Linked DNA regions of Homo sapiens: regions 1, 2, 3 and 4 are each reported to be linked to region 5. Evidence: microRNA targets listed by miRTarBase, many of them from high-throughput screens and not tested one by one. Region 5 holds a microRNA gene; each other region holds the end of a gene's coding sequence.
Evidence for each region. Region 5 holds the annotated microRNA hsa-miR-218-5p (UUGUGCUUGAUCUAACCAUGU, at 3,301-3,321, shown strand). A microRNA usually pairs through its seed, bases 2 to 8, with sites in the 3' UTR of a target mRNA and lowers its output. Matches are read on the target gene's strand: a 7mer-m8 pairs with bases 2 to 8, a 7mer-A1 pairs with bases 2 to 7 and ends in A, and an 8mer does both.

Region 1: miRTarBase lists C1orf159 as a target of hsa-miR-218-5p. Seed matches in the 3' UTR shown: 7mer-A1 at 4,599-4,605.
Region 2: the mRNA of PUF60 is a reported target of hsa-miR-218-5p. The part of its 3' UTR that is shown has no 7-base or 8-base seed match.
Region 3: the mRNA of DNAJA4 is a reported target of hsa-miR-218-5p. Seed matches in the 3' UTR shown: 7mer-m8 at 1,196-1,202.
Region 4: miRTarBase lists MEIS2 as a target of hsa-miR-218-5p. The part of its 3' UTR that is shown has no 7-base or 8-base seed match.

Annotation. Positions count from the first base shown.
Region 1 is chr1:1,078,220-1,083,343 of GRCh38, forward strand. C1orf159 (chromosome 1 open reading frame 159) reads right to left here. Exons shown (of 10, transcript NM_017891.5): 10 at 3,604-4,768. The coding sequence ends at 4,674. Among named protein-coding and RNA genes, the nearest start is that of RNF223, 6.5 kb to the left of the region's middle. RefSeq lists silencers at 1,833-1,912, 1,973-2,072, 3,702-3,881 and enhancers at 2,280-2,982, 2,983-3,684.
Region 2 is chr8:143,812,398-143,817,397 of GRCh38, reverse strand. It overlaps PUF60 (poly(U) binding splicing factor 60), which reads left to right. Exons shown (of 12, transcript NM_078480.3): 10 at 1-67; 11 at 253-488; 12 at 579-1,054. The coding sequence ends at 878. It overlaps SCRIB (scribble planar cell polarity protein), which reads left to right and starts at 1,625. Exons shown (of 37, transcript NM_182706.5): 1 at 1,625-2,184; 2 at 3,280-3,397; 3 at 3,502-3,580; 4 at 3,672-3,761; 5 at 3,872-3,928; 6 at 4,024-4,087; 7 at 4,294-4,368; 8 at 4,437-4,581. The coding sequence starts at 2,026. It overlaps MIR937 (microRNA 937), which reads left to right and starts at 4,356; the gene lies at 4,356-4,441. RefSeq lists enhancers at 1,033-1,665, 1,666-2,298, 2,583-3,247.
Region 3 is chr15:78,279,779-78,284,902 of GRCh38, forward strand. It overlaps DNAJA4 (DnaJ heat shock protein family (Hsp40) member A4), which reads left to right. Exons shown (of 7, transcript NM_001130182.2): 6 at 267-367; 7 at 467-2,413. The coding sequence ends at 682. It overlaps SKIC8 (SKI8 subunit of superkiller complex), which reads right to left. Exons shown (of 11, transcript NM_025234.3): 11 at 3,457-3,743. The coding sequence ends at 3,654. Among named protein-coding and RNA genes, the nearest start is that of SKIC8, 17 kb to the right of the region's middle.
Region 4 is chr15:36,887,371-36,892,494 of GRCh38, reverse strand. It overlaps MEIS2 (Meis homeobox 2), which reads left to right. Exons shown (of 12, transcript NM_170675.5): 12 at 36-3,291. The coding sequence ends at 322. Among named protein-coding and RNA genes, the nearest start is that of MIR8063, 83 kb to the left of the region's middle.
Region 5 is chr5:168,766,408-168,771,531 of GRCh38, reverse strand. It overlaps MIR218-2 (microRNA 218-2), which reads left to right and starts at 3,277; the gene lies at 3,277-3,386. The region is part of intron 14 of SLIT3 (slit guidance ligand 3); the gene reads left to right.

The DNA of each region.
Region 1 (5,124 bases), not on the chromosome of region 5:
GGACTCCGTGGGGGGAGGCTGAGGCTATGGGGACTCCGTGGGGGGAGGCTGCGTCTATGGGGACTCCGTGAGGGGTGGCTGAGGCTATGGGGACTCCGTGGGGGGAGGCTGAGGCTATGGGGACTCCGTGGGGGGAGGCTGAGGCTATGGGGACTCCGTGGGGGGAGGCTGAGGCTATGGGGACTCCGTGGGGGGAGGCTGAGGCTATGGGGACTCCGTGGGGGGAGGCTGAGGCTATGGGGACTCCGTGGGGGGAGGCTGAGGCTATGGGGACTCCGTGGGGGGAGGCTGAGGCTATGGGGACTCCGTGGGGGGAGGCTGAGGCTATGGGGACTCCGTGGGGGGAGGCTGAGGCTATGGGGACTCCGTGGGGGGAGGCTGAGGCTATGGGGACTCCGTGGGGGGAGGCTGAGGCTATGGGGACTCCGTGGGGGGAGGCTGAGGCTATGGGGACTCCGTGCCGGGAGGCTGAGGCTATGGGGACTCCGTGGGGGGAGGCTGAGGCTATGGGGACTCCGTGGGGGGAGGCTGAGGCTATGGGCACTCCGTGGGGGGAGGCTGAGGCTATGGGGACTCCGTGGGGGGAGGCTGAGGCTATGGGGACTCCGTGAGGGGTGGCTGAGGCTATGGGGACTCCGTGCCGGGAGGCTGAGGCTATGGGGACTCCGTGGGGGGAGGCTGAGGCTATGGGGACTCCGTGCGGGGAGGCTGAGGCTATGGGGACTCCGTGCGGGGTGGCTGAGGCTATGGGGACTCCGTGGGGGGAGGCTGAGGCTATGGGGACTCCGTGCGGGGAGGCTGAGGCTATGGGGACTCCGTGGGGGGAGGCTGAGGCTATGGGGACTCCGTGGGGGGAGGCTGAGGCTATGGGGACTCCGTGGGGGGAGGCTGAGGCTATGGGGACTCCGTGCCGGGAGGCTGAGGCTATGGGGACTCCGTGCCGGGAGGCTGAGGCTATGGGGACTCCGTGGGGGGAGGCTGAGGCTATGGGGACTCCGTGGGGGGTGGCTGAGGCTATGGGGACTCCGTGGGGGGAGGCTGAGGCTATGGGGACTCCGTGGGGGGTGGCTGAGGCTATGGGGACTCCGTGGGGGGAGGCTGAGGCTATGGGGACTCCGTGCCGGGAGGCTGAGGCTATGGGGACTCCGTGGGGGGAGGCTGAGGCTATGGGGACTCCGTGGGGGGAGGCTGAGGCTATGGGGACTCTGTGCAGGGCCGCTGTGAGGCCCTGAAAGCACTCGTCGGAGGCTCCTGCTTCCTGAGGTCCGTGACTCGGGTCACATGCCGCCTCCAGGAAGCACCCTGGCCCCTGCAGCTCTGGGAACGTCCTCCCGACAGCTCCTGGGAATATCCTGGCACTGAGGTCACTCTGGGCTCCCGGCTGACACTCGTGCCGGAGGCAAAGGTGAGGAAAGGCCGGAGGAATGTGTGGTCTCGGCGCCAGGCCAGGCCTCCCTGTGCAGGAGAGGAGCCAGCAGCTCCCCTTCTCTCAGCTCAGACGGTCTCTCAGGGCTCTCGGGAGGCTCAGAGCAGCTTGGCTGGCAGATTCCAGGGCAGGGGGTGGGCCCGCCTGGTCCCCTCCGTCGCAGCCAGTGGGCGGGAGGCTGGGCTGGTGAGCGTGTGGGCGTGTGTGAGCACACGTGCCCATGCTTGAGACATGGATGCTGGTGTGAGCACCTGACCCCTCACCTCCTTCACTCGGTCTCCTCACGCCCTCTCAGGGACTCCTTCCCCTCCAGGCCTCGGTTACGGGTCACACCTGGCACTGCCAGGCCTGGGGACGTGGTGCGGCCGGTGCGGGGAGGGGCCTTCCAGGCTGCTGTGGGGCCCCCGGCCTCGCCCCACCCCGCCCCGCCCCGTGCTGGGCCATTGCCTCAAATGCAGCGGCTCTGTTGGCCGTGGGACTGGAATTCTTTCCCAAGGGCCCAGATGTGCAGAGGGGAGGCCGGTGCGGGGGAGCAGGGCTCCGGGACGTGCACTTGGGTCTAGCTTTGCCCCTGACGTGCTGGGGCCGCCCCTAGGCCCAGCTCAGTGTGTCCCTCCTGTGCCCAGTGAGGAGGGCGTGCCCCTCGCTGCCACAGGTCCTGGCTGACCACGTGCTGCCCAAGGGCCAATCGCGAGTGCGCAGGTGGGGGACGTGGGGAGCCAGCTGAGGGGGATATGTGGAGGTGTCAGGATGACCCTGGGTTTTTGGTTTGGGCCACTGGGTGGGAGGAGGAGGAGGGGACCCAGAATTGAGAGATGGGGCCTGGGGGGCTGCTCAGAGGGTGGGCTGGGAGGTGCCTGTCTGTGTCTGGCCTGGCCTCCAGACCCTGCCTGGCTGGACCTGCTGTTCGTGCCTGTTTCCGATTTTATCCTCCAAACCAGACGCCCAGCCTGGTGCAAATGCAGGAGTGGAGTTTCCAGGGGGATGTGGACTCCTTCCCTCCACCCCCACCTCGGTCCCTGTCTCCTTCCCTCCGCCCCCACCTCGGTCCCTGTCTCCTTCCCTCCGCCCCCACCTCGGTCCCTGTCTCCTTCCCTCCGCCCCCACCTCGGTCCCTGTCTCCTTCCCTCCGCCCCCACCTCGGTCCCTGTCTCCTTCCCTCCGCCCCCACCTCGGTCCCTGTCTCCTTCCCTCCGCCCCCACCTCGGTCCCTGTCTCCTTCCCTCCGCCCCCACCTCGGTCCCTGTCTCCTTCCCTCCGCCCCCACCTCGGTCCCTGTCTCCTTCCCTCCGCCCCCACCTCGGTCCCTGTCTCCTTCCCTCCGCCCCCACCTCGGTCCCTGTCTCCTTCCCTCTGCTCCCATCTCGGTCCCTGTCTCCTTCCCCACAGGAGGAGTCTGGGGGCTCCCGCGTCACAGGGGCGTGGCCCAGGGCATCAGGTGGGGCGGTGGGTACTGGGCTCAGAGTGGCCTTGGGCTGTCCAGTCCCTCCCTTTCTCCCCAGGACCAGTGACCCTCCCAGCCCCAGGACACTTCTTGGGCCAGGGCCCAGGGCAGAGCCAATGCTCCCCCAGATACTCCCTGGCTGCAAACCTCAGGCTGGGGGTTTTTGGGGACAGGGATGCAGGTGTCTAAGGACACGACCCTCCAGGCAGTGGACGTTTCTGCCTGGGTGGAGGGCACGGTTACGAGAGCAGGGCCCGCGCTCTGGCATCCTGGTGCCCGGGCCCTCTGCCCTCAAGGCCTGTCCTGCCCCAGCTCAGCCCTCTCTGGCCAGGCCCATCACTGTCAGCAAACACCCCCACACTGCTGCCCCCCCAGATGGCCATGGCAGCCCTCCCGGGGCCCGTGTCTGCAGCCCCCACGCAGCCCGGCCGGCCGATGGAAACGCACACCCACACTCTGTCCCACCTCACTCCGAGCTGGGGGTTCGGGGACCACAGGTCCCACCTGCACAGGTTGCATCTGGGGAATGGGCCTGTGGCAGAAAATGTGCGGCGCGGGGCGGGGGGTCCCAACCAGGCAGCCCCAACCTGGACTCTCCTCCACCCCCGTCCCACCTCCTTGCCCCCAGCACACGGTGGCGGAGTGCGTGGGGCCAGCCTGGCGGGGGCTTTGCTCCCCGACCTGCACTTAGAGAACAGAGCATCCTACGGGAGAGAGCAGCTCGGAACGCAGCTTGAGTAATGCCGACTTTATATCAGCACACCCAGTGCCCCCACGTTCCCGCTGGCCCAGGTCCCGGAGACCATGATGGCACCCACAGTGGACTTCGCAAAGGAGCGTGGGGACCCCGAAGGCCAGGCCACCCCTCAGAGGGGGGTCCCATGCTAAAGCAGACGGTGCCGGTGCCGCAGGGCGTCTGAGACCCACGGTGGAGCCCGGGCCTGGCGTGCGGGAGGCGGCCACGACGGCGCCTTTCTCCCAGGAACTCCGGGAGGGACCCCAGGACTCAGCGCCAGGGCAGCCTTGGCAGGTGCAGTGAGGCAGTGACTTGTGGGGGTTAGATGTGGGCCTGCCCCACGTGGGCAGGGATCAGCCAGGCATGGGGGTCCAGCGGATCCGAGCGGGGCCACAGAGCTCTGGAGGACTTTTCTGCACAATGAATTTCTGCTTAAAAACAGAGATCAAGAGGAAGCTCTATCCTGCAGCTCCGGAAATGGGTGGCTGCGTGCTTGGGGTCTCCGCCACGCGGGAGGACAGCCCAGAGGCACCCTGGTCTCAGGCAGCTGGTTCCTAGGCTGTGTCCTCCCCACTGGCCGGGCACCGGCTGGAACGGCACGAGGACCAGCCTCACTGTTCTCAGAGGGGTCTCGGGCCACTGGGTGTGGTGGTGCTGGAGGAGTCCTGCCCGCTGTGGGCTCTGGAGGGCACGGCAGCAGAGCCCCTGGCTTTTCTAGGCAGAGCGGCACCTGCCCCATAGATCGTGCCAGCTTTGGCTGCAGGCGCTGGGGCCTCACCGTGTTTCCTGGGGGGGCCCGGACCCCCCAAGGCCTCGATCTGAAGCTCTGAGGTCTCATGGATGCCTGCTCCTGGTCCGATAAACGAGATGGCTGTGGTGGGGAGGAGCCTCAGGCGGCCCGGGACCCTTTGGCGTCCGTCGCTGGGAGGCGGAGGGACTCAGAGCCGAGGCTGTGCCCAGGACTGTCCCGGGCGCCGGGCGATGCCAACACTTTGTGCTGGTTCCCGCCAAGGGGTCGGCCTCCGGGTCCCTGCCGCCAAGTGCGTGGCGTGGTCTCGGCCTCCAGGTCAGACATTGCTGATACGGGCCTCCCCCGGGAAGGCAGCGGGATCCGTGGCCCTGTCCAGGGGCCGCTCCCGCCTGACGTAGCGCGGCTTCCGTACTGAAACGGGTCAGAGACAGGCGAGGTCAGAGTGGGACCTGGACAGCAGGGACAGTGCAGGCCTCAGCCCTCACCGGAGGCTCTCGGGAGTGGGCATATGGCACAGGCGCCCGGGGCTGTTTACTCTGACCAGGTGGGAACCCAGATGCCCCCTGCCCCTAAGGCGCCCTCAGAGCTCCAGCTCGGGAAAGGGACGGCTTCCTCCTGCCCGGCTGTGTCCTCTCATTTACACCCTGGGCCCCGGGGCCTGGACAAGGGCCAGGCGATCCCCGAAGACAGAGATGTGGGTCCCAGAGTATCATGCACCTCAGGGGGCGACAAGCAGGCCGTAGTCCCAAGACCTCGAATGTGACCTT
Region 2 (5,000 bases), not on the chromosome of region 5:
CTGGCCCAGCCCCTGGGCACTTTGCCCCAGGCTGTCATGGCTGCCCAGGCACCTGGAGTCATCACAGGTGAGTCTTAAGTGGTACCAGATCCTCTCCTCTCCTGTCCTGGCATCTCTCGGCTCGCTGCCCTCAGCTGCCTGGCCCTGGTGGTCTGGGCACAACCCTCTGAGCCCAGGGCAGGCCAGCTCTGTGCCTTTCTGGGAAGGGGGGTGGTAGGGAGTGACTGATGGACCTGGTTGGTTTTCCTGCAGGTGTGACCCCAGCCCGTCCTCCTATCCCGGTCACCATCCCCTCGGTGGGAGTGGTGAACCCCATCCTGGCCAGCCCTCCAACGCTGGGTCTCCTGGAGCCCAAGAAGGAGAAGGAAGAAGAGGAGCTGTTTCCCGAGTCAGAGCGGCCAGAGATGCTGAGCGAGCAGGAGCACATGAGCATCTCGGGCAGTAGCGCCCGACACATGGTGATGCAGAAGCTGCTCCGCAAGCAGGAGGTAGGCAGAGGGGCAGGGTGGTGGCGGGGGAGAGGGTAGGGGGGCGGGGCCGCAGTGCTCAGCTGTCTTCCCCTCGGCCCTGCCCCACAGTCTACAGTGATGGTTCTGCGCAACATGGTGGACCCCAAGGACATCGATGATGACCTGGAAGGGGAGGTGACAGAGGAGTGTGGCAAGTTCGGGGCCGTGAACCGCGTCATCATCTACCAAGAGAAACAAGGCGAGGAGGAGGATGCAGAAATCATTGTCAAGATCTTTGTGGAGTTTTCCATAGCCTCTGAGACTCATAAGGCCATCCAGGCCCTCAATGGCCGCTGGTTTGCTGGCCGCAAGGTGGTGGCTGAAGTGTACGACCAGGAGCGTTTTGATAACAGTGACCTCTCTGCGTGACAGTGGTCCCTCTCCCCGGACTTGCACTTGTTCCTTGTTTCCTCTGGGTTTTATAGTGATACAGTGGTGTCCCCGGGGCCAGGCGCGCTCTGCCCAGCCCAGCCTACAGTGCGGATAAAGGTGCGGATGCTGCTGGCCCTGAACGTCCGTGTGTCTGCCGTCGGTCCTGTCACCGATCCTGGGCGTGTGTCCTTAGGGGGTCTAGGGCGAGGAGGCAGGGTTGGGGGGGTCTCTGGACCTGCTTCCTGTTGGCAGGAGGGGCCTGCCGTGGGCGAGACCTGGGCAGGGGGTTGGCGCCCCGGGCCCCGTCCCGCGGGTGGCGGCGGCTGGGTGGGCGGGGCTGCCTGGGGCGCCAGGCTCTCGCGCGCGGGCTCGCAGCCGTCCCCGCAGGGTGGTGCTGAGAGAAGGCTGGGCACCGGGACACCGCGACCCGCTGGACAGCGCGCGCTGCCAGTGCTTTTGTGCCGCAGAGCCGGCCGTCCAAGGCGGGCGGGCGGGCATGGTCGCTTCCCGGGAGGAGGCTGTGCGTTAAGATTCGTGGCCAAATGCCGCGGGGCCAGGGGCCGGGCTGAAGACCGGAGGGCGGAGGGCGCCGCCTCTCGTGGATTGTAGCTCCCAATATCCCGCGCGCGGGGCGGGCCCGGCTTCCCGGCACGCTTTGCGCGGTGCCGCTACGGGTCCTCAGAGGCGGCGGCGCGCGGGGCCTTCTGGGGGCCGCAGTCCGGGCGTGCTAGGCGGCGAGGGCCGGACTCGGCTTCCCGACGGGCTGCGCGGCGGCCGGGTGGGTGTCGGCGGGGCAGTCCGGCGGGCAGCGGCGGTTCCGGTGCGGCACAGCGGGCGGACGAGCGGGCGGGACGAGCTGAGCAGGACCAAGCGGGATGCGGAGCCGCCGCCGCCGCCGCTCCCCGCGCTTCCTAAGAGTCTGAGACCCGCCGGGCCGCGCCCCCTGCCCAGGCCCGCAGTCCGAGCGTTCCGAGCGCGGGCCGGGCCCAGCGCCGGCCGCGGCCGCGTCCCCGTCCAGTCTCGGGCGGCCCGCCCCCTGCCTGCGCCCCCTCCCCATGCGCGGCGCCCATGCGGACTGAGCCCCGCCCCCCGGCCCCGAGCCCGCCGAGCGCCGCCGCCGGAGCCCGCGCCGCCCACCCGCACCATGCTCAAGTGCATCCCGCTGTGGCGCTGCAACCGGCACGTGGAGTCGGTGGACAAGCGGCACTGTTCGCTGCAGGCCGTGCCGGAGGAGATCTACCGCTACAGCCGCAGCCTGGAGGAGCTGCTGCTCGACGCCAACCAGCTGCGCGAGCTGCCCAAGGTGAGCGGCCGCCCGCACCTGCCGCCCAAAGGCGCGCCCCCAGCCCGTGATTCCTCCGGCGGCAGAATCTGCCCGGGCGAGTCACCGCAGCCTCCAGCCGGCCCTGCTGGTTTGCACTGGCCAGGTCCCCACCCCAGCCAGCCCCACCCTTCTCTTCCAGCCGCCCTGGCTGGCGCAGGTGGCAGCGGTCATCAGGTGCTTGCCTGGGGATAGCGATTGTCACCGAGCCTGGAGGCGGAGCCTCAGAGTGAAACCCGTGGGGATTCAGGGAGGTGGATGGGGTTAGGGTGGAACTTGGATTCAGGTGGCTGATGAGTACTAGCTTCTTGGGCCGCTCTGGAGGTGGGTCCAGACCTCCTCTCCTTTTTTGCTGGGTGCAGGGGTGAGTGGGGGAGCCCTCTTGATGTACTCTTTGCTCTCGGATCTGTTCGCTGTCCCCCTTTCTTTACCCTTGCTTCTCGTGGTCAGGTGCTCTCCTAAGGCTGCTACAAGAAAGGAGGCTGGAGAAAGCAGATTAAAAAGTATTTCTTTTCTGGAGATGGGGTGCTGGGTGATCAGTACCTAGGGGTTGGGTGTCCCAAAGAATGTGACCCTGTTCTGGCCGTGGCAGTGACAGCTCGGTCCTCTGTGGCCACCTGCAGGCCTCGCGCGTAGCACTGTGCCTGTGGTACTGTGTTATTGTGGGGAGCGTTTACTGAGTTCTTGCTGCAGAACCAGGCCAGGCTTGTTGTCAGGATGCAGTAGCAGAGGCCAGTGTGGGCCCCTGGAGGGTGGCAGAAGTGGTTCAGGGGCTGGGTGGGCCCTGAGGTAAGACACAGGGTAGGGGATTGGGGCTTTGTCTGGTCGCCAGCAGGTGTCTTCTCAGAGTGGAGGCTGGTGTGAAGAGTAGAGGGAGGCAGCCACAGTGGGCGTGTGTACCGTGTGTTTCTTTCCTTTTTTTGCAAATGGGGTGTCGTGGTTAGACCCCAGGACCCGGTGTGACCTGGAGCAGACAGAGGCCTAGGGACTCTTGACTTGTGACACTCACGTGTCCAGGAGCTCTTCTCTGCTCTGCAGTGGTCTCTGCCACAGAGTCCGTGTCCTCCCTGCCCACAGCCTTTTTTCCGGCTGCTGAACTTGCGCAAGCTGGGCCTGAGCGACAACGAGATCCAGCGGTTGCCTCCCGAGGTGGCCAACTTCATGCAGCTGGTGGAGCTGGACGTGTCCCGGAACGGTGGGGAGCCTGGGCAGGGGCTGGGTGGGGTCTGGGGAGTGTCCGCTGGGGCTGCAGACGGCCTGCAGGCCATGGCATCTGTCCACTGTGACCCTCTGTGACAGATATCCCTGAGATCCCGGAGAGCATCAAGTTCTGCAAGGCTCTGGAGATCGCGGACTTCAGCGGGAACCCCCTCTCCAGGTGGGTGGCAGCCTGTGGTGGGGTCGGTAGGGGCTATGGGTCCCACAGCCCTGGACTGGTCATCCGAGGGCCTCTGCTTCCTCCCATCCAGGCTCCCTGATGGCTTCACTCAGCTGCGCAGCCTGGCTCACCTGGCCCTGAATGATGTGTCTCTGCAGGCACTGCCCGGGGACGTGGGCAAGTGAGTGCCTTCTCAGGTGGAACTAGGGTGGGGTGGGGGACCAGGATTGGCCCTGCCCCTGCTGCCACTGCTTTCCTTCCTCTTGCCCCAGCGCCTGGTCTCTCTTTCAGCCTCGCCAACCTGGTGACCCTGGAGCTCCGGGAGAACCTGCTCAAGTCCCTGCCAGCGTGAGTGTGACAGGCATTCTCCTAACAGCCAGGGCAGGGCCACAGCCCAGGGACCAGGGCTGCGTGGCCACACCTCCACCCTGCTTCCTCTGCAGGTCCCTGTCATTTCTGGTCAAGCTGGAACAGCTGGATCTGGGAGGCAACGATCTGGAAGTGCTGGTGCGTGGAGGCCTGACAGGGCAGAGACCGGAGGGCGGGCCACGGAAGCAAGGGCAAAGAAGGGGACAGCGAGCAGATCCGACAGCAAGGGGCACCTCGGGAGGGCAGGCGGGTGGGAGCTGGGTGTGGGGGCGTATAGTCTCTTGAGCACGGCGCAGCAGGAGGCTTTGCCTCATAGTCACTATTTTCTCTGTTCCTTCTTGCAGCCAGACACTCTGGGGGCTCTGCCCAATCTTCGGGAGCTGTGGCTTGACCGGAACCAGCTGTCAGCACTGCCCCCGGTGAGTCAGGGTGGGGCTGGCCCCCTGCTTCGTGCCCATCCGCGCTCTGACTCTCTGCCCACCTGCAGGAGCTCGGGAACCTGCGGCGCCTGGTGTGCCTGGACGTGTCGGAAAACCGGCTGGAGGAGCTGCCTGCTGAGCTCGGCGGGCTGGTGCTGCTCACTGACCTGCTGCTGTCCCAGAACCTGCTGCGGAGGCTGCCCGACGGCATCGGTTAGTGTGCCTGGGGGTGCCTGGGTGGGGCACACGGAGCCTGGCCCTGGGAGGAGCGTGGGGCGTCGGGGCTGTGTGTGGTGTGGAACACAGGGGAGGATCCTGAGTGTGCCCAGGCTCTGGGAGCTGTCCCTGGGGAGGGGAGGTGGGACCCTGGGGCAGCCCAGAAGGCTGAGGAGGCAGCTGGTGGTGCTGGAGGGGGCGGTGGAGTCTGTGAGGGCGGAAGGGTGGCAGTGCCACTGGGGCCTGGTGTTTTCTTGAAGGAGGTTGGGTCAGGCTTGTGGGGCAAGGTAGGTAGGGTCCTCCCGAAGTACGGCGGCGGCAGAAGGGGCTGGGGGCCTTGCTGTCTGCCTTGAGGGCGCTTCTGGCCAGGTGGGTAAGGCACGTCTGGGGACCATGCTCAGCCTTGTCCCCCTGTC
Region 3 (5,124 bases), not on the chromosome of region 5:
TACCTGTGATGGCAGCTGCACCATGCTGCCCTCTTGACACACTGCTGGAGCCCAGAGCACAGGCCAGAGTCTCAGCCTGAGCCCCTTCCCCAGGCAGTACCTGACAAGGATACCTGGGATTGGGGCCAGCTTTCCAGTCAGATGCCACGTTTCCTTTGCCCACTGCCACGGGGCACTAGGGCCTGCCGCAGGCTCTCCCATGAGGGAGAACGACCTCTGCAGGCCCCTCTGCCTTCCTCCTTCCTAATTGACCCTTTCTCTGGCAGGTGAGGTGATAAAGCACGGGGACCTGAGATGCGTGCGCGATGAAGGAATGCCCATCTACAAAGCACCCCTGGAAAAAGGGATTCTGATCATACAGTTTTTAGTAAGTTCACTATGTTTCATTGTCATGGACATATTATTAAATGCCTTAATTGGAAGGGGAAAAAACAGCCACCTTTCTTTCCCACCTCACCCTTTACAGGTAATCTTTCCTGAAAAACACTGGCTTTCTCTGGAAAAGCTTCCTCAGCTGGAAGCTTTACTCCCTCCTCGACAGAAAGTGAGGATTACAGATGACATGGATCAGGTGGAGCTGAAGGAGTTTTGTCCCAATGAGCAGAACTGGCGTCAGCACAGGGAGGCCTACGAGGAGGACGAAGACGGGCCCCAGGCTGGAGTGCAGTGCCAGACGGCATGACGTGGTGCGGGGCAGCGTGGCCCCACCGGACTAGCACATGATGAATGTAAAGTTGGCACAATGAAAATGACATCGCTTTAATGGCCTTGTGTTTGGGATGTCCTGTGTATGTGTTCAGCATTCTTAATTGCTGAGTGTCTTTTTGGCTTTTCTTTTGGTTGTAACTTAAGTTATAGCTTAATTTATATTTAAATGTTTTAAGTATAAATCACCTCTAGTCTGCATATGGAATCTGTTCATTTCTATTTTCAGGATATACTTTTGAGATGTCAGTGATTGCACCAATACTTTGTGCTTCTAGTGGCTTTGCCATAATTCAGTGTCACCAATAAGGCACAGCCCAGTTAGCAGCTTAGCCCCCCTAGCAAACCCCAAGGCACAAAGTGGGCATCCTGACTCATCTCTAGGTCTGTGGTTTCTCCCCTCTTCCCTTGGCAGAGTTATTGAGGGCATGATCTCAGGGCTGCTAAGATAACATTTCTGAGGATTCTAGATGATCCTCTTAAAGAATAAAAGCACATCCGTGGATCGGACATGGCTGCATGTGCCTGCTTAACAGGGCCAACTTAGTTCCTACTGTTCTGTGCCCTTCAGTGGATGGAACGTGAGTGTCTGATCATCTCTCTTGGAAGTTTTCTGAACCTTCCAAGCTCTGTGGTGAGGACAAACCAGTGTTTGAATCATATGCTGATAACTGTTTGCCTGTGACCCTCACACCTTGTTCTTCAGGGTTTTAATGATTTTCTGTTGACAACTTTTGCAATGCTTTCCCACCAAAGTGCTTACTTGTAAAGAAAACTAAATCCTTCTGTGTCCCCGGCAGCCTCAGTGCAGCAACAGAAGCCAAGGGAGAATGCTGCTGGTTTGGCCCATGGCACAGCCAGCTTCTCTGACCAGTAATCCGGGGTGACTTGAGGGTCTGCAAAGGCATAGAACTCCCCAGTGTTTTCCACCTCATTCTCCCAGATTGAGCTCCCTTCCAAAGGATCGTTCCTCTCATTGCACAGCCATATTACAAAGGGTTTCCTGCTCAAGTGATGTTTTGGTAAGAACTTCGCTGAGTTCCACTGTGGATTACAGTTTGTATGGACTACTACTGTAAATTATAGCTTGTTTGGAGGGATATTAGTCATTATTTTATTCATGACAGGTAGACTACAATTCGAACTTAGGGTTACCTCAGTCTTTAGCCATTACTGCTTATTTCTTTTCCCCAAGTCACAAAAAACTTGTAAGCTGCTGGGTTAAAGCAGAGGCCACCTGTCAGATCTACCCTACCCTTATTTGGTTACATGGCACCTGAGAGTTTCACTCAGACCAGGGATCTTCCTTAGGAGGGTCAAAGTGCAGATCAGACCATGCAGGTAAGGTGAACCAGCTGCACGGACCAGGTTCCCGCAAAACATTGCCAGCTAGTGAGGCATAATTTGCTCAAAGTATAGAAACAGCCCACCTGTGCCCACTTTGACCATTGGTGAGGATAGATATAAAATCACTTCTTCCAACGAAGCCTAGGTGAAAATCTATTTATAAATGGACCACAACTCTGGGGTGTCGTTTTTGTGCTGTGACTTCCTAATTATTGCTAAAGAACTACTGTTTAGTTGGTAATGGTGTAAAATTACATTCAGCTCCTTCTTGTCATATAAAAGGAATTTGGAGGGTGTCGCTTAAAATTTTATTCCACCTGTACATTTGTCACTTTAAAATTAAAATTGAGCTGGTATGAGAGATAAGTGGCTTTGCTTTTTCCTTTTTTTGAGAGCTCACATAAACAGTGTTAGGTGCCTGCCAGCTTGCCTCTCATTGGTTGACATAATGGAATGAAGTTTCCACCCTCATGGAGCTTTATTTTGGGGGTGGGGGTGAATGCAAACAAAAAGTGGTAACTGCTATGAAGAACAAGAGGAATGGGAATGAGTAGAAGGGAATGGGAAGAAGGCCTCTACCAGGAGCTGGCATCTGGGCAGAATCCTGGATGCAGCTGGGGAGCAGATGTCCGAAGGTCTGGAGGGAAAACATTCCAGGCAGAGGAATGGCAAGGATGATGTGGTTACAGGAGGGTGAGCAAGGCAAGCAGGAGGGAGAAGTGGGGGGCTATGATAAAGAGTGTGAGCTTTATTCTGAGGGCAGTGAGTGGTTTGAGGAAAAGCACATGACCTGACTCATAAGCATATGAAGTAATGATCAATAAAAAACACGCTTCCAAGTGTTCAGCTACTTACATCTTTCTCATTAACATGAGTCTCAAGGGGGCTGATGAAGAGGAAACTCTGAGGTACAGATACTCTGAAATAACTAAGGCAGGGCTACAGTTCTACAGCATGAGGCACAGGCTTCAGCCTAGGCATTGTTAAGGCAGCAAGAATAGCAGCCTGCCTTCCGATACCCACCTAGCGAGTTAGAGACCTCTCTGAAATTAATAAGGGGAAGGAGGGCTTGGCAGGGGACATCTTTAATACATCAAGTGGAAGGATGCCCAGATAGACAGGAGTACATAATGTTCCTATGCAGTCAAATATACTCTTTCCTTCAGGACTCCATTCTAAAATAGATTAGCTTCTTTATCACAGCTCCGGGGAGCTCGCTGCTGTATCTCACTGCATAAGTCAACTCCCTGGAAGAGTCAGCCTGTATTTCTAAGCTGGAAAGTTAAAGAAATACCTGGATCTCTTGATGGCTAAGGCAGAGATTTGCTCTTAATGCCAATCCCTCTCACTGTTTCACTGGTAATAGGGTAACTGAAAAAAGAAGCATGTTCAAGGACACCAGTGTTTGCATTAAGAAAGCTTTATGTTAAAGTATGAACAGCATTTCCAATAAAACATGAAAAGATTCATATTGTATCTACAAAATTTAAGTCTTTGCTACAATAAATGCTATATTTCTTTTAAACAAGCCTAAGAAGGTAAGGAATGTCATGATCAATCCGTACATTCTCTTTGCAGCATAAGCCTGGAGACTTTGATGTTTAAATTGGACAATCATAGATGTGAATTTCCTGGTCATCTCCAACAGACACAATTTTTGAACCATTTCCATTGTATTTTACTCCCCAGACCTGTAAATTTAAAAAAAGATAGTTCTACAAATGCCTTTATTCTTTATAATATTTATGAAATGAACATCCTTATTTTCTCGTTATTCTGAATCTACCAAAACTGAGATGAGGATGTTCTTGTACTTTCTAAATCAGTGAGAATGGAGGCTTTAACCGAGCACCTTCCATTATTGCTATTTAATTAGAATTCCTGCCCCTTCCCATACTCCAAAAAAAAAAAAAAAAATCATTTTTAAATACAGTACTAATCAAGACTATCTACAACCCTTTCAAAGAGTCAGAATCCTGAAGTGTAACCTAATGCCAGGAAGACGGAAGCCATAAGAGACCAACATTTATGCTTCCAGGAAGAAAGAGCCCCACAACTACCCCGAGGTCACTGCCTATAGGGAAAGTCACAAACTGCGCTCCTCAGCTGACCCCTTGTGTCCGCCCCCCACAGTCAGTAATTCTCACTCTGTTATTAGTGGCCTATGGAGCCTGCCTGTCCCCAGGAGCTAGACAACATGATATTGTGGACCATAGATTTTTATTTGCTATGTGTTAAATTAACTGATTCACACCTCCTTCCCAGACAGAATTGATGTGGTTGGAGTTTCTCTAATCATAAATAACTTCCTGATTATTAGGAGGTGATTCTGGGTGGTAAGCCTGTCACCCTACTCTGATTTTAGTGTTGGGATTGGGCTGCATGATGGCCTTTCACTCCAGCCTCTGACACAGCACCGCAATGATCCATACATACAAGGAAACACAGCTAGCCAGGACTTACTCCCTGAGTAAGATGCTTAAATCCAGAAGTGGAATATCAAGATAGAACCCCCTCAATTTTGTTGGGACAATTTAAGTTGAAAAATAAGCATGAACAATGTTAGTTAACTTTAAGTTCCATTTCAAAGAGGAGAAATCTATAGGACCATCTAAAAATATTTAAAATATATTAAAAGCCAATATTATATTGCCATGGACATTTTATTTTTTATGCTCAGTTCCCCAAGACCTTACAGTGTGGTTAGGACCAGCAGCCTTGGCCTCACCTGGAAGCCTGTTAGAAATGCAGAATCCCAGGCCCTCTGCCAGACCTAGTGAAGCAGCATCTGCATTTTCACCAGGTTCCCAGGGGATACGAGCACACATGAAAGACTCAGCAGTATTGCACTAGAACACCTTTGCTATTTCACATATTCACCTTGGCAAAGATAAAGTTGCTTGTGAGAACAGTTTCCTTTTAAAGACTGAAAAGTTATCAATAACACTAAAGCCAAAAAACTTGTATGAATTTCCAGCTTCTACTATATTAAAAAAAAAAAAATCACATCTCTTCTTTGGACAGTCCCAAAAATGACAAGCGATGATTGTGTTTAAGCAATGGAATCTCCTG
Region 4 (5,124 bases), not on the chromosome of region 5:
TTTGACCCGCTTTCTTTTTCCCTCTCTATTTTCAGGTTTGCAGAGCATGCCAGGGGACTACGTTTCTCAGGGTGGTCCTATGGGAATGAGTATGGCACAGCCAAGTTACACTCCTCCCCAGATGACCCCACACCCTACTCAATTAAGACATGGACCCCCAATGCATTCATATTTGCCAAGCCATCCCCACCACCCAGCCATGATGATGCACGGAGGACCCCCTACCCACCCTGGAATGACTATGTCAGCACAGAGCCCCACAATGTTAAATTCTGTAGATCCCAATGTTGGCGGACAGGTTATGGACATTCATGCCCAATAGTATAAGGGAACTCAAGGGAAAAGGAAACACACGCAAAAACTATTTTAAGACTTTCTGAACTTTGACCAGATGTTGACACTTAATATGAAATTCCAGACAGCTGTGATTATTTTTTACTTTTGTCATTTTTCATCAAGCAACAGAGGACCAATGCAACAAGAACACAAATGTGAAATCATGGGCTGACTGAGACAATTCTGTCCATGTAAAGATCCTCTGGAAAAAGACTCCGAGAGTTATAACTACTGTAGTATAAATATAGGAACTAAGTTAAACTTGTACATTTCTGTTGATCACGCCGTTATGTTGCCTCAAATAGTTTTAGAAGAGAAAAAAAAATATATCCTTGTTTTCCACACTATGTGTGTTGTTCCCAAAAGAATGACTGTTTTGGTTCATCAGTGAATTCACCATCCAGGAGAGACTGTGGTATATATTTTAAACCTGTTGGGCCAATGAGAAAAGAACCACACTGGAGATCATGATGAACTTTTGGCTGAACCTCATCACTCGAACTCCAGCTTCAAGAATGTGTTTTCATGCCCGGCCTTTGTTCCTCCATAAATGTGTCCTTTAGTTTCAAACAGATCTTTATAGTTCGTGCTTCATAAGCCAATTCTTATTATTATTTTTGGGGGACTCTTCTTCAAAGAGCTTGCCAATGAAGATTTAAAGACAGAGCAGGAGCTTCTTCCAGGAGTTCTGAGCCTTGGTTGTGGACAAAACAATCTTAAGTTGGGCAGCTTTCCTCAACACAAAAAAAAGTTATTAATGGTCATTGAACCATAACTAGGACTTTATCAGAAACTCAAAGCTTGGGGGATAAAAAGGAGCAAGAGAATACTGTAACAAACTTCGTACAGAGTTCGGTCTATTAATTGTTTCATGTTAGATATTCTATGTGTTTACCTCAATTGAAAAAAAAAAGAATGTTTTTGCTAGTATCAGATCTGCTGTGGAATTGGTATTGTATGTCCATGAATTCTTCTTTTCTCAGCACGTGTTCCTCACTAGAAGAAAATGCTGTTACCTTTAAGCTTTGTCAAATTTACATTAAAATACTTGTATGAGGACTGTGACGTTATGTTAAAAAAAAAAAGGTGTTAAGTCACAAAAAGCGGTAATAAATATTTCATTTTTGATTTTTTGTTAGGCTTTTGCGTTTTTAATGGTTTTAGGACAAGACTGCACAATGCCAACTCTATACAGTGTTAAAAGTAGGTTTTTCCCCCCAGCAGTTGAGTATATTTTAAACTCATCAATAATTTTTAAGGTAATCATCTATAGCCTTTCAATGTCTATTTGACCTATAAGTTCCACCAGCAGAAAACTTCTAAAGGTACGAAACTATGTGTACATGATGAGCCAGGTTGAAAGATCCCCTTGAACATGCTCAACCTCCTTTTTAGATGCATGACGTTAAAAAATATATACTTTCAGATAAAGCTTTTCATGGGCATCCTCTGCCAGAATAAAGGACTTTTCAGGGTTAATTTTACAACATAAGAAATAATGTCTGTGCTCAAAGGTAATTTATCTGCCTGTGTTTTTCCTCTGCCTGTCTTACTACAATATTGTTGGATATGTAAATGAAAATTTACATATGGGTGTTCATAGATAAGTAAACAACTTCTATGGAGTTTGAAATTCTGACTTTAAAAGATTACTTAATCATTAATATTTTATAAATTATATTGTGGTATATTTTTATTTCAGACACATCCATGTGCAGGGATGCTAGTGTGATGATTTGATAACTAAACTTAAACTTTTTTCTGAAAACAAAACAAAACAAAATGGACGGTATAATGCCATTTTCAAAATTTTATGCAACATTCCTGGAAATCTATACCATTAGCTTATTGATACTGCACAAACAATGTCTGCTAAAGTGTGCAAAAAGGGTGAGGCATGTCCCCTCAATTTTCAAATAAATATACTATCCTGGAATTTTTTAACTCTTAAATTTTGAATCTTTGTTTAGAAAGAATAATGTCATATACTTTGGCTAGATATGTGATGTCAACCGGCTAAGGAAATTATTCATCATCTCTGCAAACTTAAACTTGGAAGAAATCCATAGTTATTATTTGGGGCTCTTCCATCTTTCCATTTCAGACAGCATTTATGGAGGTTCTATATAAATGAACGAGGAAATACACTTCTATTGTTTTGTGTTATATTTAGTCAGGTAGAATTTTTACAAATACATTTCAGTTTAAGTGTTGTGTTGCTGTTTAAACATAGAAATAATGCTTCTGACACAAACTAACTTAATAGAGAAATTCAGTGCCACTTGGGAAAGAGAGATAGCTTCCCTCTCATTTTTGCTATTCTATTTTACATGAAGTCTTTTTGTAAATTTTAAATATTTGCCTATTTTTACTTTAAATACTTTTATGTAAACTATGAAAATTCCCCATTATAAATCAACTCTCACATCAGGTGGGAAAAAGAACCTTTTTTTCTTTCCACTCAGTAAATTCTGAAGGGTTTCCTTGGCAATTGGCTCGTGTTTAGGATGTGTTTTATGCAATTATCAAGTTATCTCATTGAAGTTTAGAGACCAGAGCTCTCAACTCTTGGTTTTAATGAATAAAGTCATCTCATGCTTAGTTTATTCGTCAAACCCACGTCCTATCATGTTAACTTTAACCTTCTTAAATATTTGGAGATGAATGATAATTGTAATATTTGTTTGCATTACCTTGCTCTCCCCCACCCCCAACCCCATGATAACACAGAGAAGTGATAGATTTGTCCAATTTTTATAATGCTTTTTTTACACCACCCCGGAAGGCACTTGCTCCTATCTCGGGTTTACTATTTAGTGTAAAGAGTTCCGATTTGGGTATATTTAAGAAAGACTCAGCTGTCAAAAGCAAAGAAACTGGGAATGGTGTTTTGACAACCATATAGTGTTAAAGGAAATACTGTAGTCTGAATAAAATTGCTTATGTTCTCCAAAACAAGAGTAATATAAAAACACTTTTTTATTTATATGAAAAAGCAAAAGCAGAAATAAATTCCAAAGGTTTCCCTTTCTTTAAGAAATTCTGAGAGAACTGCAGTCGCCATCTGTTAAGGGTTGGGAATTGAGCAAGAAGCCACATTTTAAACGAAAAAGAGAGAAAAGACCAGGAAAGTCTGTGTCTTCCGTCCACCCCTCCTCTCTTCCACCCCCTAGGTCAGCACCCCTCACGCCCCTCAGCTCTCACCCTCGTTAGAGTCCACCAGGATCCTCCTGCCTCCTCACCCCCTCCCGCCCCCGCGGGCCTGTTAACCCGGAGCAGATTTGGGAAGGGAAATGTGGCTAATATCTCTAGCAGCTGTCAAAGGAGGGACCTTCCTTCAAAGGGACTGGACAGGGATCCTCCACAAGTTCTCCATTAGCTAGCAGGCCAGCAATTTGATAAGGAGCCTGGACCTCCGCTACAAGTTGCCACTCAGTTAGAAAGTCCGGTGTCCGGGTGTCTGGATGCGCGGAGTGACCCCAGCTTCGCGGCCGCAGCCCCCGCCGCCCACCCAGCGGGGTTGGTGCAGACGTGCGTCCTGGAGCCTAGGAGGAGGCAGGACAGAGGCTTGGGCCGCGGCAGAGGGGCGTGCAGAGGGCTACCCTGGCCCTCACCTGGCCTTCCCTGGGCGCGTGTGTTAGAGTTAGACCAACGTATTGCAAACTATGGGGGCACGGGGGGCCCGTCCCAGTTACAGTTGCAGTCATCAACTCAGGGCGTCGCGCGCCGGGGCGGGCCCCCTCCGTCGGGGCCGGGGCTGGGAGAAAGTGCCGCGCGGGGGAAATGCTGGTCTGATGGGGGAGGCCGGTCAGATTGTGATGAGAATGGAGACCGTCGGGGCAGTGTTTGAAGGGAGGTTTTAATATTAATAGTTTCGGTGTAGAGACAGAAGGGAGATTGCGTCTACGGCTCCTCCGGGCAGACTCTGGGTGACAGGAATGATGGATGATCCGGCAGAGCCCAACAGCTCCTCCCCCCCCAGCCCCAACAGTGTCAAAGCTACTTTAGTTGAAGCTTTAGAAATAAACAGCATCGCCACCCCCCCATACTCTTAGTACACCTCCACCCTCTCCCCCCGCTTTCCGACATCGATTTATGGATCATTATGAATCAATTACTGCCCTCAATACCTTCCCATTGGCTTAAATAAAACAGTTGAAAGATGAAAACGTGGGGTTCTGTGGAGATTTTTTTCCCTGACAAGAACAATCGCAAAATCCATTATCTCATAATCCGAGGCGCTGGGTGAGGAGGTGAAGAGAAAGGACGGGGTCACCCAGTAAATAACTGGGGGGAACGCAGGAAGGGGGGTGTCGCCCAGATGCTGCCTTTGTTTTCTTTCAGATGGGTTTGGTTGGTTGGTTTGTTTGGTGTTTGGGGAGCGGGGTAAACTCGCGTGAGAATTAGATGCCTACAAGTTTTGTGACCTAATTATTTAACTCCTTTGGAGAGACCCCTTTGAATATGTGTCTCGTCAAACATCAGATGTTGTTGGTAGTGAGGTCACACATGGGAAAAGGTGTGGAGGAATGGGTCCGTCTGGAGGGCGGATTTTCACTTTGTTGTGAGCAACTGTGCGCGGGAGGGTTGGCCGCCGGGTGGGGAGACCGTCCCTCTCCCCTCGCCCCCCGCCGCTGGCTGTTTTTGTCGTTGGAACTGGTTTGGATCTGGGGCTGGCCGTCCCCTTTCGCCCCCACCCCCACCTCGGCCGCCCGAGGCTTTTCTTCCCTCTCCTGCCTCTTCCGCGGCGGGGCTCGAGGTTCTCTAGGTGTTTCTATGACTACATTG
Region 5 (5,124 bases):
TCCTGGGAAGTCAGTAGGAGAGCCCTTTGCTCTATAGGAGAGGGAACTGAGGACTTAGAGGTGAAGGGGCACTCCAAGTTCACAAGCCAGCAAACAGCGGAGGCAGGACTAAACCTCAGGTTCATTTTGGTCCTCACACCACACAGCATCTGGGAGAGAAGGAATATTTGGGGATGACAATCAGCTGCTTGGATGACCTCCTTCCCTGGTCTCATGCTCCCACCCCTACCCGCTCCCTGAACACTGTCCTCAGGTTCCTTCCTGGGCCTGGCAACATCTCTGGAAAGAAAATCTCACCCAAAGCACAATCGTCCTATCCCCAGCACCTTTCCTCATGACTCACGCCAACCTTGGCCTCTATTCCTACCCCTGTCTGGCCAGGGCTGAGTTAATTAGCTCTGCCAAACAGTGGTACCCAAAAAGAAGGACAGTGAGAGCCAGAGGAGGGCAGGGTATTATCTGCCAACCTTGACCCTTTGGTCTCATAAGTATCCTGTTAGTACTTTGGACCCCAAATGGATGTGGCGGCCCTGCGTGGCACAGCAGGGAAAGAGTGCAGGATCCAAGGACTGGTATCTCCCCAGGAACACAGTCTTGGCAATTTTCTGGGCATGACTGTGGTTGGGGGTGGCAAGGTGGGGGTGGGGCTATAGAAAGAACTAAGTAGGAGAAAAGGAAAATGGAAAGTGGACCTAGGAAGCAGTAGAGCTTAGTTCTAACTCTAGCTCTGCCACTATCGTCCTACCTGTAGATCTGCAGGATCCTGGCTGCTTTTCCTATGTGGGGGAGGGGAAGCTGAACATTTTAAAAAAGAAACAGGGAGAAGGAGCCAGGTTCTTGGATTGACTCTAAGATACCTTTTTTAAAAAAAAAAACAATGCTAAGCGAAAGATTATTCCTAAAAAGTAGAGATGTTTGGAGCTAGCATGAGACTGACACGTAGCACTCTATTTGCTTTTATTTTATGTCATTGCAAAGAAAGCATGACTGCTGAGCTCCAAAGGCCTTGGCTTTGAGAAACATGGGGTTCCAGACCTGCCTTGGCCTTGGAGGGAAAGAAAAACCATAGATGTAAAGCTCTGTGTTTCCAGGAAGCTCCAGAAGAAAGAAGGGGGGCAGGTGACACAGACTGGATGTGACAGATAATAACTCTGCGTTTTACTTTTTCCTAAAAGCACCCCCATTGAAAAGACAGCTGATGTAATTAGGAGGCAATTTGAGGGCTGCTCCGTAACACATCCTGCCCCTCCTTAGGCAGGGCGTCTGGTTTCCCAGCTGCCTGTGTCTGCCTCTCTCTATCAGCTGCATCCGCCGCCTTGGGCAGCAAGATCAGTTTAGGGTTGGATGCTGCCGGCTGGGGTAATCTGACCATCAGATTAAGTCCTCCTGAAAAGGCTCCGTCTGGCTGCCTGGGACCCCAAGCCCATCCCTGGGAGCACTTGGCAGTTGCAGGGTGCTGTCTGTCTTCCTTCATGCCTCCCCGCTTTGTGTGAGAAGAAACTCTCTTGCTGAAAAGTACAGAGGGTGGTGACGCAAAGTGTCCAAAGACGGCGAACAGCAAGATAGCTCTCAAGGAATTACAGAACTTTTAGAAACCTTAGAGGTCATCCAGTTTATTCTAGAGATGGATAAATTGAGGTCCACACAGCAGAAAAATCTTATCTAAGGTATTGAGTATTATTTTTAGGGCAAGATCTGAAACCCAGGACTTCTGACATACTGTGAAGACTCTTGATAATTTACCTACAAATCCCTCCATTTCTTTTTGTAGGAAGAAACCAAAGAGAAAGAAAATTAGATTTTAAGGCTTGGTGAGGGTGGCGGTTTGCACGAACAGGATGGATTTCCCCTGCTCTTGTACCAGGGTCCTAATCAAACTCACATTTGAAGTCCCAGAACCACAGTGTTCACAGAGCCCTGCATAGGTGTCAAAGCAGAGTGGAGTCCAGATTCTAGTGGCTGACTCTAGTGCGTGTGATGAGAGACCTTAGGAAGGAGGAGAGGCCAGACAGACCCAGAGCTGTGGGCTGGCTCTTCCTAACTGGTCCAACATGGCAGACAACCTATGCACCGTTGAGATGCTGAGACCATCTAGAGGATATGCCCAGTCCCAAAAACACATAGTGGAAGAATGTTGATACTGGTTCTCATGTCAGAGGTCAGGCAGGGAGGGTCTCAGTCACTTAGCCTTAGCTCCAGTTTCTTCAAGATGCACATCTCCAGCCTAATGCCAAGTGGGAGGAAGTCCCAAGTCAGCAGGTTCATGGAAACTGACCCTGATCTATCACAGAGAGGAATATAAAAACTGGGTACCCTCACCTGGGCCTTTGGCATCCTGACAGTGGTTATTGGTTCATCCTGTTCGCTCCCATAATTTCCAGCTAAGGAAGAGAACAAGAAATCAAGAAGGACCCCAGAATTCAGTGTCTTCCCCTCAGACTCATCACTTGGCTTCCCTTTCCTTCCTTCTCTTAGTCTCAAAGAGGCCCTTCATCAGGAGGCGCACTGGCCACCATCTCTGTGAAAGTCAGTGTTCTCAAACAACAACTATGATTGCAGGTTCCTCAGTCCAAACCCTACGGCCCCATTTGTTTTCCTGTCTTTCTCTCTGGCTAGAGAGATATATTTTCTTTTGACACCCCACTGCTCCTCTATTAAACCTCAAATGATCTGGGATGAGTGTCTATCAGCCAGAGCATTCCTGCTGACCTCAAAGGATATAAAGGAGACTCCTGAATTGTGGAATGTCAAAGGGGGCTTTTTCCTAAAGAACAGCATTGAAGGTTTGCTAGACCACTGGGAACTGTGGATTGTCTCTTGACTTAAGGGGCTAGAGGAATGACTGTGATGGAACCACTCAGCTGTTGGGGGGATTGGGCCTATGTTGCAAAGCATGCAGAAGATGCTTTTCTAAGTTTAATGTCTTGTCAGACCAACTGGTGTGACTGAATGGAGTTTAGAGGCTCAATTCAGGCATGTGATAGGATCACAGATGTCTGAGTGTTCTTTCTTTCCTTGGGAAGGAACCATGCTGTCCTGAAGCTCCCGAGTATGGGCATCCAGTGATTTCCCTCCCGTTCTTCTCCCTTCCTACTGTGTCTCCCTGGGGTGGGGCACAAGGGCAGCAGGGCTGCAATCTTCGGAAGTGTTCCAGTGGAACCCCACTCCTGATACTAATCACGCTCAGTGGGGGCCTGCTCCGGCTTCCGCTTCTCCACGCTGCTTCCTCTGAGCGCTCCTGTCCTCTCTCTGACGCTGCTTCCTGACCTTGACTCTGACCAGTCGCTGCGGGGCTTTCCTTTGTGCTTGATCTAACCATGTGGTGGAACGATGGAAACGGAACATGGTTCTGTCAAGCACCGCGGAAAGCACCGTGCTCTCCTGCAGCATGGCCCGCCACCGCCGCCACCACCGCTGGACACCTCTCCTCTGCTCTGGAGCACCGCAGCCCACCACCTGCCAGACCCACCTCTCCCAGTCTCAACTCACCAAAGGCAGGAGGGTAGGAGTCTCAAAGGATGCAGATACAGAGGGAAATGGGTCTGGAGAAGCACCCTGGGGAAAGAGATCTGTATCCACATCTCTTTCCCAAAATGGAGTCACCCTCCCCCAAATCTAGTCTGGATGTCAGACAAGGAGTAATAACTAGGTTCAAGCTCAGAAACTACTGTGTCTCTTCTTCCACTGGAAGGGAACAAGTATACCCAAGGCATACGCCCCATGGTTTCATGGGAGAGTCCCAACCCAAGGTCATTTTTCCAAGTGGCAGCTAACCCAAAGGGGAATTCCTACTGCTTGTGACCCCCGACCCCTCCCACCACCACCTTTATTGGTATTCACTTTATTTGAAATGAACGTCAGCATGAGAATGGGTGAAACTCATGTGAGTCTGAGACTTTGGGTTTAACCCAAGGTTCCTTCTGAACCTCATTCCCATACTTTATGAAAACACAGTCCCTGAACCCCATGAAACCTAAAGTCCAGTCTGTTTCCTTGACCTGCAAAGCACAGTTAACGTGGAGGTGCTGGGCTCCTCACCTGGTGCTAATTCTGTTTCAGGGGAGGGGAGTGTGTGTGGACGTGGAAACCTGCTATCTCTGATAATAAAGAGAGGGATCTTGGTACCTCTTATTTTGCTTGTTCCTTGATAAATCCTAGACCCAGTGTAACCAGAAGACTGTGTTGTTCATTCCTGTCCTGGAGTCTTTGTCCTATTCTGCAAGAGAGAGCTAAGGTGGGAACTTTAGCCTAGCTCAGAACTAGAAGCTGAGCCCTGGGCCCCCATCATGAGGTGTGACTCTTATTACCTCGTCTATCTGAGGTTACCCCTCAGAACCAGGAGCCCAACCATTGCTTAGTAGTTTTTTAACATACATTGAGTGCTTGCTATAGGCCAGGCAGTGAACTGTTTTCACATCATTACCTTGTTTAATGTTCACAAAATCTAAAGTCCCACTTTACAGATGAGGATATTGAGGCTCAGAGAGGTTAGCTAACTTACCCAGGGTCATCTGATTCCAGAATGGCTGCACTGTACTGCTGTAATACCCACCTTCCCAGCTGTGGACAACCCCATTGCCTTGAATTAGAACATTTAAAAACTGTGATTTGATAGGGACTTGAAATTTGCTTAAACTCTCCCTTTCAGACTTTCATCTGTTAGTAGAAAGAACTTGAGTAAGAGAGAAAGCATTATTCAAATGGCTGTTCCTCTCCAGCATGGACATACAAAGATCCCATTTAACACAGAGCAAATCCTCGAGCCTGGAGAAGTTCCCTTTCCCACCTTACAGAGAGGGGCATTCTGAGGCCCTCGGCACTGCCCCTAACATGGCAGGGACCAGGCCTCTGGGAGTGGGTCCATAATGGTGCCCTTCCATCAGTGCTTTACTGGCCCCGCAGCCACAGGCTGTGATGAGGCAGTGCCAGCCTCAGACCATGGGTATTTCCCTCTGTTTTCAGGCAGATGGCTGCACTCATAATAGACTCCAAAGGGGATAGCTTACTAGGACGGCTCCCTGCCCAACTGGTGACCAAACTCCTAGTAAAACAGTTGGCATCTTCCAGCCACTGGCAGCTGGTCCCCCAGCCTTGCCCATGAGTGGATGTCTGTGTGCCTGGCAG